Regions from separate parts of the Homo sapiens genome. Here region 2 is linked to region 1. The links come from fine-mapping of genetic effects on gene expression. Tissue or cell type: whole blood. Region 1 holds a variant in brackets; the other region holds the start of a gene. All regions are shown on one strand. Distances are between the middles of the regions.

What was found. PIP is the estimated chance that this variant, and not a neighbour inherited with it, causes the effect.
Region 2: DLEU7 starts here. The variant in region 1 is fine-mapped to the expression of DLEU7 in whole blood (TOPMed, PIP above 0.99). The same link has a PIP of 0.9 or more in blood mononuclear cells.

Annotation. Positions count from the first base shown.
Region 1 is chr13:50,712,277-50,717,502 of GRCh38, forward strand. It overlaps a transcript of DLEU7 not described here. Among named protein-coding and RNA genes, the nearest start is that of DLEU7-AS1, 93 kb to the right of the region's middle. The variant C/T (reference allele first, on the strand shown) is at 2,736.
Region 2 is chr13:50,840,760-50,845,985 of GRCh38, forward strand. DLEU7 (deleted in lymphocytic leukemia 7) reads right to left here and starts at 2,933. Exons shown (of 2, transcript NM_001306135.2): 1 at 2,429-2,933. The coding sequence starts at 2,887. All of the region lies in intron 4 of DLEU7-AS1 (DLEU7 antisense RNA 1), which reads left to right. RefSeq lists an enhancer at 1,863-2,789.

The DNA of each region.
Region 1 (5,226 bases):
TCAAAGTAGGACTTTAAGCAGATATCCTAAGGCCAATATCCCAATTCTGCGTTTGTTTTTTTCCTTGAGGTTTAAACAGTATGTTGAATCAACATTCTATCAAGAGCTTTTTTAGTGCTTTTACCAAGAAGTTGTTAGTGAGAGCTGCATTCAGTTCAACTTTCTTTCTCGGTTCCTTTCCCTACCCTGGTTTAGTGTGTTGAAAAATCCTTTTGCATCAGCATTTATGCAGCATATAATTTTTTTACTCTCATCCAACAGGCACATTTGGATTTACTATTTCACTTGAACAGTTGGTGTTTACTGGCAGCAACAAGAACAAAATTTATAGCAGCAAATGGAAGCTGAACTCGCATGCTGGCTTTGCACTGAAGAACTTTGTGTTTGCCATTTCCTAATTGTGAAAACAATATGTCCAAGATTTTGCAGTCATCAGCATTCTGATGTAACGACTTCCATCTGGTCAAAGGAAGAAATTCAGAACCTCTATCTCCTTTTGAATTCTACTTCAGTGCAAAGGTAACTGGCTTAGGAGAATGTTGGAAGACAAGAAATTCAGACAATACATTCTGAAAAGCGACTATAACATCCACTTTTCCAGGGGATAATTTTCCTGAAGAGCAAACAGGGGTAGGGAATTTGTCACGATCTTCTTAATGGAAGCGGCTCTAATTGGAGCAAGATGACAGGATTACTTGGAGGTGAGAGAGGATAAAGAAAGCAGGATGATTTGTGGCGCGTTCCAATCGGAGGTAATAAGAAGTCAGAGATCCACAGAGACCATGCAATTGGAGACCAATACGAAGGCAATGGAGGCCAACAACGTGGTAATAAGAAGTGGTTTAACATCCCATCTCATCCCATCTGGCATTCAGAATTTGGCACTGGTTATTGAAATATGAAGCTCCTGATGGTCCTCACACTCCTACAGTGACCTTCTTCACTCATTAGCCAGGAGTTGAAGCTGAAAGAAATGTAGCATAATATCTCAAATGCTTGCTTTGCATTTTTTATATTCATTGATTCAACAATTATTTACTGAGCACTATATTGCATTTTAGGAATGGCATTAGGTACTGGAGATATGGGCTAACACACATTTCTTGGCTACCCATTATAGATAATTACATGAGAAACACAAAATATGCATAGAAGGACCCTAATTTCGAGTCAAACAACCCAGGAAGAAGACTTCTCTATAGCTATCTTTATACTTTATATTAATCTTTTTCTTTGTATTTTATGTTCATCTTCTTCTTCCTGAAATGAGAAGGGAAGGAAAATAGAATTCTAGAAATAACCTTACAGCTGCCCTTCACTCTATGGAAAAAGTGAGCTCTTGACAGGAAAGGGGTTCTATCCATGATCTTACAATTCCTAAACAGCAACAGCATCATGGACGTATTTGTTCCTGGCGTCATAAGCCTGCATACGGTAGGCATTCAGTTAATAGGTACTGATTGGTCTAACAGAGGAAGCTGGGCTTGATTATAAAATAAACTAGGCTATGAAATCATGCCTCCTAAAAGCTCATTAAAGGCAGCAACACGGGATGGGGACTGTAAGGAAGTTGTCTCCCACCTGCCTCCCTCCTCAGACACACATCATTCCGCAGATGTGAAAACGACCCAGACTCTGCCCGCATGTGGCCTCCCGGACCGGGCAGTAGGGCCTTGCCCCTACCCTCATGAAGACTGTCGGCTGTGTTACAGAACTGCTGCTCTGTCTCTGACTCCCCTCACTCCCATGCTCTGTTGGAAACTCAAGTTGTGAAACCACAAAACACAGAAAGGAAGTGGTCAACTATTGCACATACTCAAGCTATGTAGTCTCAGTTTATTCCATTCTTGCAGGATCATTGTAGGAAGGCATAAGAGTCCTGCTTACTGGTGAGCCACTGAACACAAACTCCCTTCTCACCTCTGCCTTGGATCCCGCCATGCCTGAGGTCTAGGGCTAGAAGCGTTGTTTCATCCACATTAATTCCGGTCTTGGGCAACGTGGCTATTTTCTGACCTGTCTGTCTTCCCACCCTAGTGGTGAATTCTCTTTCTGGGATCTCAACTCCTTCTCCTGTCACCCAGCTTTTTCCGAGCAACCCCAGTCCATCTGGCATATCATTAGAATGTTAAACCTAAAACGGTAAGCCATTCTGTGAATACCTTTAAGTAACAGGATATTAAAATGAGACTTTTCCTGTTTTCTCAGTGCTAGCTGACATCTTTGAGCTGAGAAAAAAAAATATTGTTAAAAATGCTCATCTATTCTCAGGAGATGTCATCTGCTAAGGAGTGACCAAAAAAATGGTCCAATAACCCTGAAACCATCGCTCAAATCTTAGCTACGCAAGGGGAGACTTGTAAATTAATGAGGACGGCAAGGATTTCATGAGACAGAGCTTTCAGGCTGCTAAAATGCTTCCTCCTCCCTTCTCATGTGTTTTCCCCTCATCTTACGCAAATAAGAGGGGGCCTTCAGAGAATTACTTGGAGAGCTGACCTAGGACCCCTAGGCTTTGGGGAACATAGAATGTATTAGTGTCTATTGCTGCTGAAACAAATTAGCACACATTTAACAGCTTAAAAATAGCAAAATTACTACCTCACAGTTCTGTAGGTTAGAAGTCCAGTGGGCGCGGCTGGTGTGTGGGCTTCAAGCCTCACAGGGCTGAAATCAAGGTGTTGGCCAGGCTGTACTCCCTCCTAGAGGCTCTAATGAAGCATCTGTTTCCAGGC[C/T]TCTGCGCCTTGTTGGCGGAATTCAGTTCAATTTGCCTGATGGACTGAGGTCCCTGCTTCCCTGCGGGCTGTCGGCGGGAACTGCCACTGGCTCCTTGCAGCCTCTCTCTGATTCTTGCACAAGGGCACCTACATCTCAGAGCCAGCGAGAGTGTGAGTGTGTGGAATCCTTCTCACGAGGCCTCATCTCTCTGACTTTCGTCGGGAAATGTTCTCTGCTTTTAAAGGATCATGTAATTATTTTGAGCCTACCCGATAATCCAGGATAATCCCCTCATCTAAAAATCTGTTACCTTAACCACATCTGCAAAGTCCCTGTTGCCGTGTAATGTAAGCTATTCACAGGTTCTGGGGATTAGGAAAAGGACATCTTTGGTGGGGGCCTTATTCAGCCTACCACATAGAGATTAGTACCTGAAAAGCCAGCAGGTGAGAAGCTAGACAGAGCAGCCGGTGGCAGCTAAAGGAGAAAGGGGGCGAGAGCTGGAGAAGTCGCACTTCCGCCGATGGCGCAGCAAAGGGGATGTTGCCCTGGAGGACTCAGGGAACGGAACTGGGCTATCAGCCGAGAATGGGGCTCCACTCAAAAGGAGGAACCAACAGGAGACACAAGGAACCCCAGCAGGAAGAAGTCGGAGATGGAGGAGGGGAAGTCATAGCTGGAGGAGACGTGTGTTAGGAAGCTACAATGGCAGCTCCCTAGTGGAGGTGTTTCGGAAAAACTCCGAAGATTCCACTTGAGAAAATCATCGGCCTTCAGACAACGTCTATGCCAGATAATGCTACCAAATCACAACCTTGCCTTTCCTCCCTACTGCTGTTCTGATGTGGGAGGACCCAAAGGCAGCAGAAGAGCCAAAGAAGAGTAGCAGAAAGGTAAGTTTGGCTGTCATGCCCTGGCACACCTTGCTGCTACCCTGCAGCTCCCTGCCACCTGGCCATGCACTGCTTCCCCTCCACACCCTGCTGAGGCAGGTCTGGGCTGGGGACACAGGAAGCTTTGATGTTAGACTGAACTGGACCTTCAAGATCTCAAAACACAAAGTATTTGTTAGTAACTGAAAGGTGGCATAAATGTTAGATCAACCTAGGATTTTATCACCAAATAAGGAAACAAGTTCACTGGGCAGTTCTAAGAAAGAATAGAATTGCTTCCTGCTTGGTCTTTTTTGTTTAATAGACCAGATTCACAAATGCCCCAACCCTTCTCTAGCAATGTGTAGGTTCTGATCACCAAGGGCTATCTCAAGAGAAGGGCCAAACATCTCCATTAACAGGAACTCAAGCCCTTGTTTCATTGAAATGTTTGGTTACAGCTTAATGACCACAGTTGCAAAGCCAGAATATTGAGTTTTTATATGCTATATTATTTACATGGAATAATGCCCTCTTGGTACCATATTGAACATAGTAAATTCTCTGTTAATTGACACTATACAGAAAGAGTACTTTGACTGATCGAGGAAGGCTAATGTTTTTTGATCTCTAATCCTTGGGCTACCTTTTCCGTGATGTCACGGAAAGAGCATTAGACTAGTTATTGTTCTAGAACTGGGACTCTCACTAACTATATACACGTGGGCAGATCATTTTACATTTTTGAGCATTGGTTTCTTCATGTGTAAGGTGGTAACAACAATGTCTCCCCTGCCTTGTTCATAGGATTGTAGGGAGAATCAAATGACATAATGGTCATGAAAATATATTTCTAAGTTGTAATCTGTATATGTAATAAGGTGTTACTAGTAATTGAACATTTATATATATTCTGTAACAGGTTGTAAACTTTTAAAAGAGATCTAGTACACCAGGCTTAATGGACTATTTTTTGAAAGACACATCAAAAACTGTTGACAATAATTGCCTCTAGGTAGAGACATGAGAGTGATGGGAAGGAGGCAGACTTATTTTTCACTCAATTTCCTTTTGTATCTCTTGAATTAATACTATATATACACATGACGCATTTAATTTAAACCAATACAATTCAATAACTATTTGAGAAGTTAAAGAAAAAAGATATATTTATTCTGAATAATAAATTGAAAATAATCTAATCTTTCTGTAAAATGGCTTTTTAGGATCTTTAATACTTTAGCTTTAAGTGAGATGATTTAGTTGATGCAACCAGCACAGAACTTGGCACACAGTGGGTATTCAAAAAGTGGTAGAGCCCTTTGCCTTGAGGCCATCATATGACTATCCACTCCCAGTGAATTTGCTATATACAAGGATATAGTTAATGGGATGCTGGATATTAGAAAGTTTATTGGATTTTACCAGGATGCTGGACACAGATGGTAAGTGGAAAATGCCAGAAAGTTGATGAATCATCTGGTAAACTAGTGGAAAAGGTAAATGGAGCCAGAAAGAGGCCAGAGAGGGCAAGGAAACAGAACAGGTCTGGAGAAAGGCAACTACACTCATTGTATCATGTAACCCACTTTTCAGTTGCTGATGTTTCCAAAATGGTAAGTACATTTTGCAAACT
Region 2 (5,226 bases), 130 kb after region 1:
GTGGAATTAACATGAATATACATGGGGATGGGGGGGCAGCACTTGAATTTTAGAAACAAAAATGAAGATGAGTAGAAATGCAATTTTTTAGGTAGAAAGATATTTCTGTCCACTGGCCTCTATTTTCTCAGAAAAGGTGTGAGCGGGTTGAGGTTTGGATGAAGAAGGCTTGAGGAGGATGGAAAATGTTTAGAATCAAAAGTCAATTAGAAAGGGCTAAAAGGATTTCCAAGTAGAAGTGACTGTGGCATTAAGCTAAAATGGCATAGTTTATAGTGGACTGCTTCCAGAGCAGAGGACACGGGGTTTAGTCCATTGCCACTGAGTTGGGTCAAGCCCTTAGACAGCTGTCTTCTGACCTGACTTTCAAACTGAAACCTACCCTTCTGTGATTTATCCAGGCTTCTGTGATTTACCTACCCTCTGCTTGCAAGACAATCCAAGGTCCTCAGCATGACACACAGGCCTTTCCCTAACTGGCCCCCATTTGTGTCTCCAGCATCAGTTTTTGCCTTCTGCCATATTGAACTTAACTGTAGTTCCTCTAGAGCCTCAGTCCCTTTCAGTGCTGCTGGGCCTTAACCAAAGTATTCTCCTGAAATATTTTTCCCTTTAATGTCTGGAAAATAACATGTATTTTTTTTTTAAAGGCTGCCTCCTCTGAGAAGCCTTCCAGGGTCACCTTAGGTAAAACTGATTGTCAGTCTCTCTTTTTGCCAGCCTTACCTATGCCCTGTATGTGCTACTGACATCACAAGTCACTTCATATTTCATCTATTTTAAAATGCACTTTTATTCACATTTTTTAAAAATCCCTGAAATCAGCCAGATGTGGTGGTACAGGTTTGTAGTTGCAGCTACTGAGGAGGCTGAGGCAGGAGGATCACTTGAGCCCAGGGCTCGAGGCTGTAGTGTTATGATCGCACCTGTGAATGGCTACCACACTGCAGCCTTGGCAACACAGGCAGACCTTGTCTCAAAAAAAAAAAAAAAAAAATCCCTTAAATTAGCATGTAACTTATAATCAATGGTGTATCATAGTTCAATGACAGGATTAAAAAAAATTTTGGTGATACCAAAAAAAAGTACATCTTACATTGGAGAGCATTTGGTGAAATGCAGCTTCATTTTCTAACTTTCTAAAGTGAGTGTAGGAGTGCTTCTCATCTTGCCTCCCACCCCACCGCCCCCGCCACCTTTGGCAGTGTCTGGAGACATTTTTGGCTGTATCAACTTGCGGCGAGGAATATGCTGCTGGCATCTAACAGGTAGAGGCGAGAGATGCTGCTAAACATCCTCTAATACACAGGACAACCCCCGACAACAAAGAATTAGCCAGGTCAAAATGTGAATAGTACAGAGATTGAGAAACCCCTACGTAGAGAAACAATACCTATTTGGGTATATAATAGGCTTTATTATGTTTGATTTTAAATAAATCTTTTACAGTGTATAGTGCAACTTAATGTATAGCAACTTTTTCCAAACCTTGGCTTGTACAGAATAGCAACTCTTGAGACATATTCTAAGCTCTCCTCATCACCCCTCCCCAACTCCTTCTGCTAGATGCCCCAGGGAAATAAAATACAGCAATGCTCCTGGTCAAAATCTGAAAGCCAGAATGTCTCAGAGAGATTCGTGACCTTAAACCAATTAGGTTAGTTAATGGCAAGTCCAGGACTGAAACCCAGACCCCCAGATTTCCGCAATCTCACTCAGCCTGGGAGACAGCTGCTCCCTTCCCGGGCTAAATTGGCTAACACAGTTTGGTACCTTAAGAGGAAATGTGCCCTACCTATATGAGCTGGGTGACTTAGCAAGAGTTTAGCATTTAGTATTCACGCTTTAACACCCGGGACCCACCCAGCTCTCACCCCACTTTATGAGAATGTAGGTTGACTCTGTAAGACCCCTTAGCTCTGTGGGGAATTGGATTTATGCAAAAAATAATAGTGATTCATGAATGTGAAGGAACTTTAAATAAATGTAGATGATTTCATCATACAAAAGGCAGAAGGGACTTAGTAAGTGTATTTAAGGCTCTGGAGGAAGCGTTATTAATTTGGAAAGTGGGTGGGGGGAGCTGTCCTCTATCCCTACAAGCTGCACGTGTGGAAAGGGCCTTTCTAGCGCAGGAAGCTGATTTATGTGAGAGAGGAAGGAGTTCCAGGGGGAGGTTTTGGCAAGGCAGTCCCCACATCTCGGTTGTGCCAGCCAGGCGGGCCTCAGGTGGGTCTGGGGCTCCCTGCCCCTCCTGCTGAGTCCCCAGAGTGTCCCCCGCCCCCTTCCTTCTCCCACTGGGGCTGAATCACAGTGGGCAGCAGTGTTTGGGATCCTGCGATCCACCCATCGCCATCCCAGCAGCCCCACCCTTGGAGGATGGGAGGTTACCCTGCACGCCAGAGGGGATGGCGGGGGCCAGACTCACCTTCAGGTGAATGGGAAAGGACCGCTCCTGCTGGAGGGGCCCCAGCAGCGTCTGCTCCACGCTGACCAGCTCCGAAGTCGAGTCCACCACGCGGGCCAGCGCGCTGCGCATCGCCATCTGGGCCAGGGTGCAGGGCCCGCGGTCCCGGGGGAAGGGCAGCAACTCGGCGCCCCCCTCAGCGCCTCGCACTACCTCCTCCTCTGGGGAGTTCGCCCGCGCCGCGGTCCGCCGACTCCTGGTCCCCACGCCCCCGCCCCGCTCCTCGCGCCCGGGCCCCGGCCGGGCCCGCGGCGGGCCTGAGCGACGGGCTGGAGCGGTGGACACGTGGTCTGGGTCCCGCGGGTTCCCGGGGGCGACTGGACCGTCCCCCCAGCCCCACTCCTGCTGCAGCAGCTGCAAGGTCTGCAGAGCCACCATTTGGTGGCTGATGGAGGCCACTAAGGGCGCAGGGCTGGCCATCGCCTCCGCTGGCGGCCCGGCGCGCTCCGCGTGCAGGTGGAGCAGCAGCGAGGGAGGCGGGGGCGTTGGGGTCGCCAAGGTCACATTTTCTAACCCGCGGCTCCTCGGCCTCTGGGTCTCACAGCGTGTGTGGTCGGCCCCGCCCCCGGCTCTGAATCGGTGACCCGTGCTGGCCTCTGCCTTCGCCTGAAGTCCGAATCAGGCGTGTTCTGACCCAAAGCTGCCTGAAGCGCTGCTCGGTGTGCACTTGAAAATCAGCGAAATGCTGAGCGTTGCTTCTTCCCTCTCTCCAGGGCTTTGATGAGAAAACGTGCTGCTTTGTGCGGGCGCATCCATCGGCGGGGATACCCCGCCCCCACCTCCTTCGAAGGATGCCTGCCAATGACCACTGAGGTCTGGGAGGTGGGGGTGCAAAAGACCCACTCTAGGGCAAAAGTACGAAGGGCTCTAGAAAAACTTGCAAAAGGAAGACTGTGCCTTTCCCAACCCGAGGGGAATTTTCAGAAACTTGTTGAAGCAGCCTTCAAGGCCTTGCATCCCCCAAACAAAAGAAGGAGGAGTTGTGTATCTGGAAGTTCTGCTCTTCTCTGCTTTGCTGGGTGCCACTTGAGCACCGAGAGCCTGGTGGCTGAACTAGCATCAGCAAGCCTCAAGGCCCAGGCCTGGCACTGCCCAGAAAAGCCTAAATGTTTTTTTGTGACACTCCCAAAAGACTTAGGCAGCAAGGTTGAAGTTAATCCTTTTATGAGCCATGAACTTAGGGACAGCTGTACAAATAGTTGCTGTTTTTAATTAAACCCAACATGGCTACTTCCTTAACTTAGAAAAAAGCGACTAGCAATGTTATGCTTTGATAGATTGGAAACCATGGGTGTGTGATCACACTTAAGAAAATAGAAGATATTTGAGAGGAGTGGTATGGAAAACCAGTCCGGAGCAGCATTGTTCCTGCTTGCTTTCTGCAAGGAAAACCACTAGACAACCCAACAGCCCAGTAAAGCCAGGGCAATGGTGCATGCCCACGACAGACAGGTGGGCCCTGGCAGACCTGAGGATGGAATTGCATTACTCCTTTGGGAGCCAGACTGCACCCTTGGTGCTGTGCAGATCTGGAGAGGCTTTTGAGTGAAAAGGCCACACTGGTTAGTCTGTGAGCACAAAAGGATCATCAGAAGAGATATGGAGAGGGATGTTGGGTCCTTTAAGGTTTCCTTAACCCTGGGATAGTATGACCCCATATAATCCTCCCAACTTGCCAGCAAAGGTTCCTTCTCCTTCCCAGTGCTTTCTTCGCCTATGAAAACGAATCTGAATGCCAAGGTAAAGAAAACCTTTCTTAAACAAAAACGAGTATGTTCACACTAATTATAACTAAGTAAAAATGCACGTCTGTGCATTGACAGAGAGGAAATTACTTTGGAGGGAAGTAAATAGTTTAATGTTGATTAGATTTTTTTGCCATGAAGTTACTTAAGTTCATAATAAAAAATAGAAAGAAAAAAATTTTCTTTTTAAAAAAAGTCTTCAAATGTTGAAATATATTAGGTTCAGCAGAGACTAACCAGCAATAGCAAAAATGAACCCCTAATTTTCACAGAGCATGTCAGATCTCTAGGGCTGCCTCTCTTTCCAGATACACAGGAAATTCAGTTTCATGGGCTAACCCTTCCACTATCAAATGGCTGACTGCAAAACTTTCTTGACAGTTGGAATTGCAGCCAAGAGCAGAATTGAAATCACTAGACACAGGCTGACCTGAGGCCCCACTCTTCTACATACCACACTGAGTCAGAGCCATGAGACCAACTGAACCTCAGGGGGCATGACAGAAGGGTGCCAGAAAACCTTGGGGCCTGAGGGATGGCACATGCTGCTTAAATTGCTGCCTGCTTTTTCTAGTATTCTTAGGAAGCCCTGGATCATCTGGCAACTGAGTGTTTTGTCTGTTTTGGCTGTGGGTCGCACTGTGTTTTGCTATGATCTCAAAATGGCTTGTGTTCCAAAGCTAGAGATATGAGAGCCTAACTCAGGAAAAATTTTCATAGTCTATTTAGATGAGTCAATAGCATAGCAGATCTACCTTTGGTCTAAAACACCTCCGTAGTTACGTTTGCTGGGCTACCAGACGAAGTAACAGATAGCCTACTTCTTACCCACTGTACTCACGATTTGAGGCCATTCTGTAATAAAGGGCACATTCAAAAGGACAAAGTATTAGATATCTGATATGTTTGTTTCACAACATATATTTCACTATTTTATAGAAATCATACCCTCATTTCTCAGTAGATATGCCTTTTCCTCCACACTCTGCCCGTGAAGTCAGATGGGATGAGCCC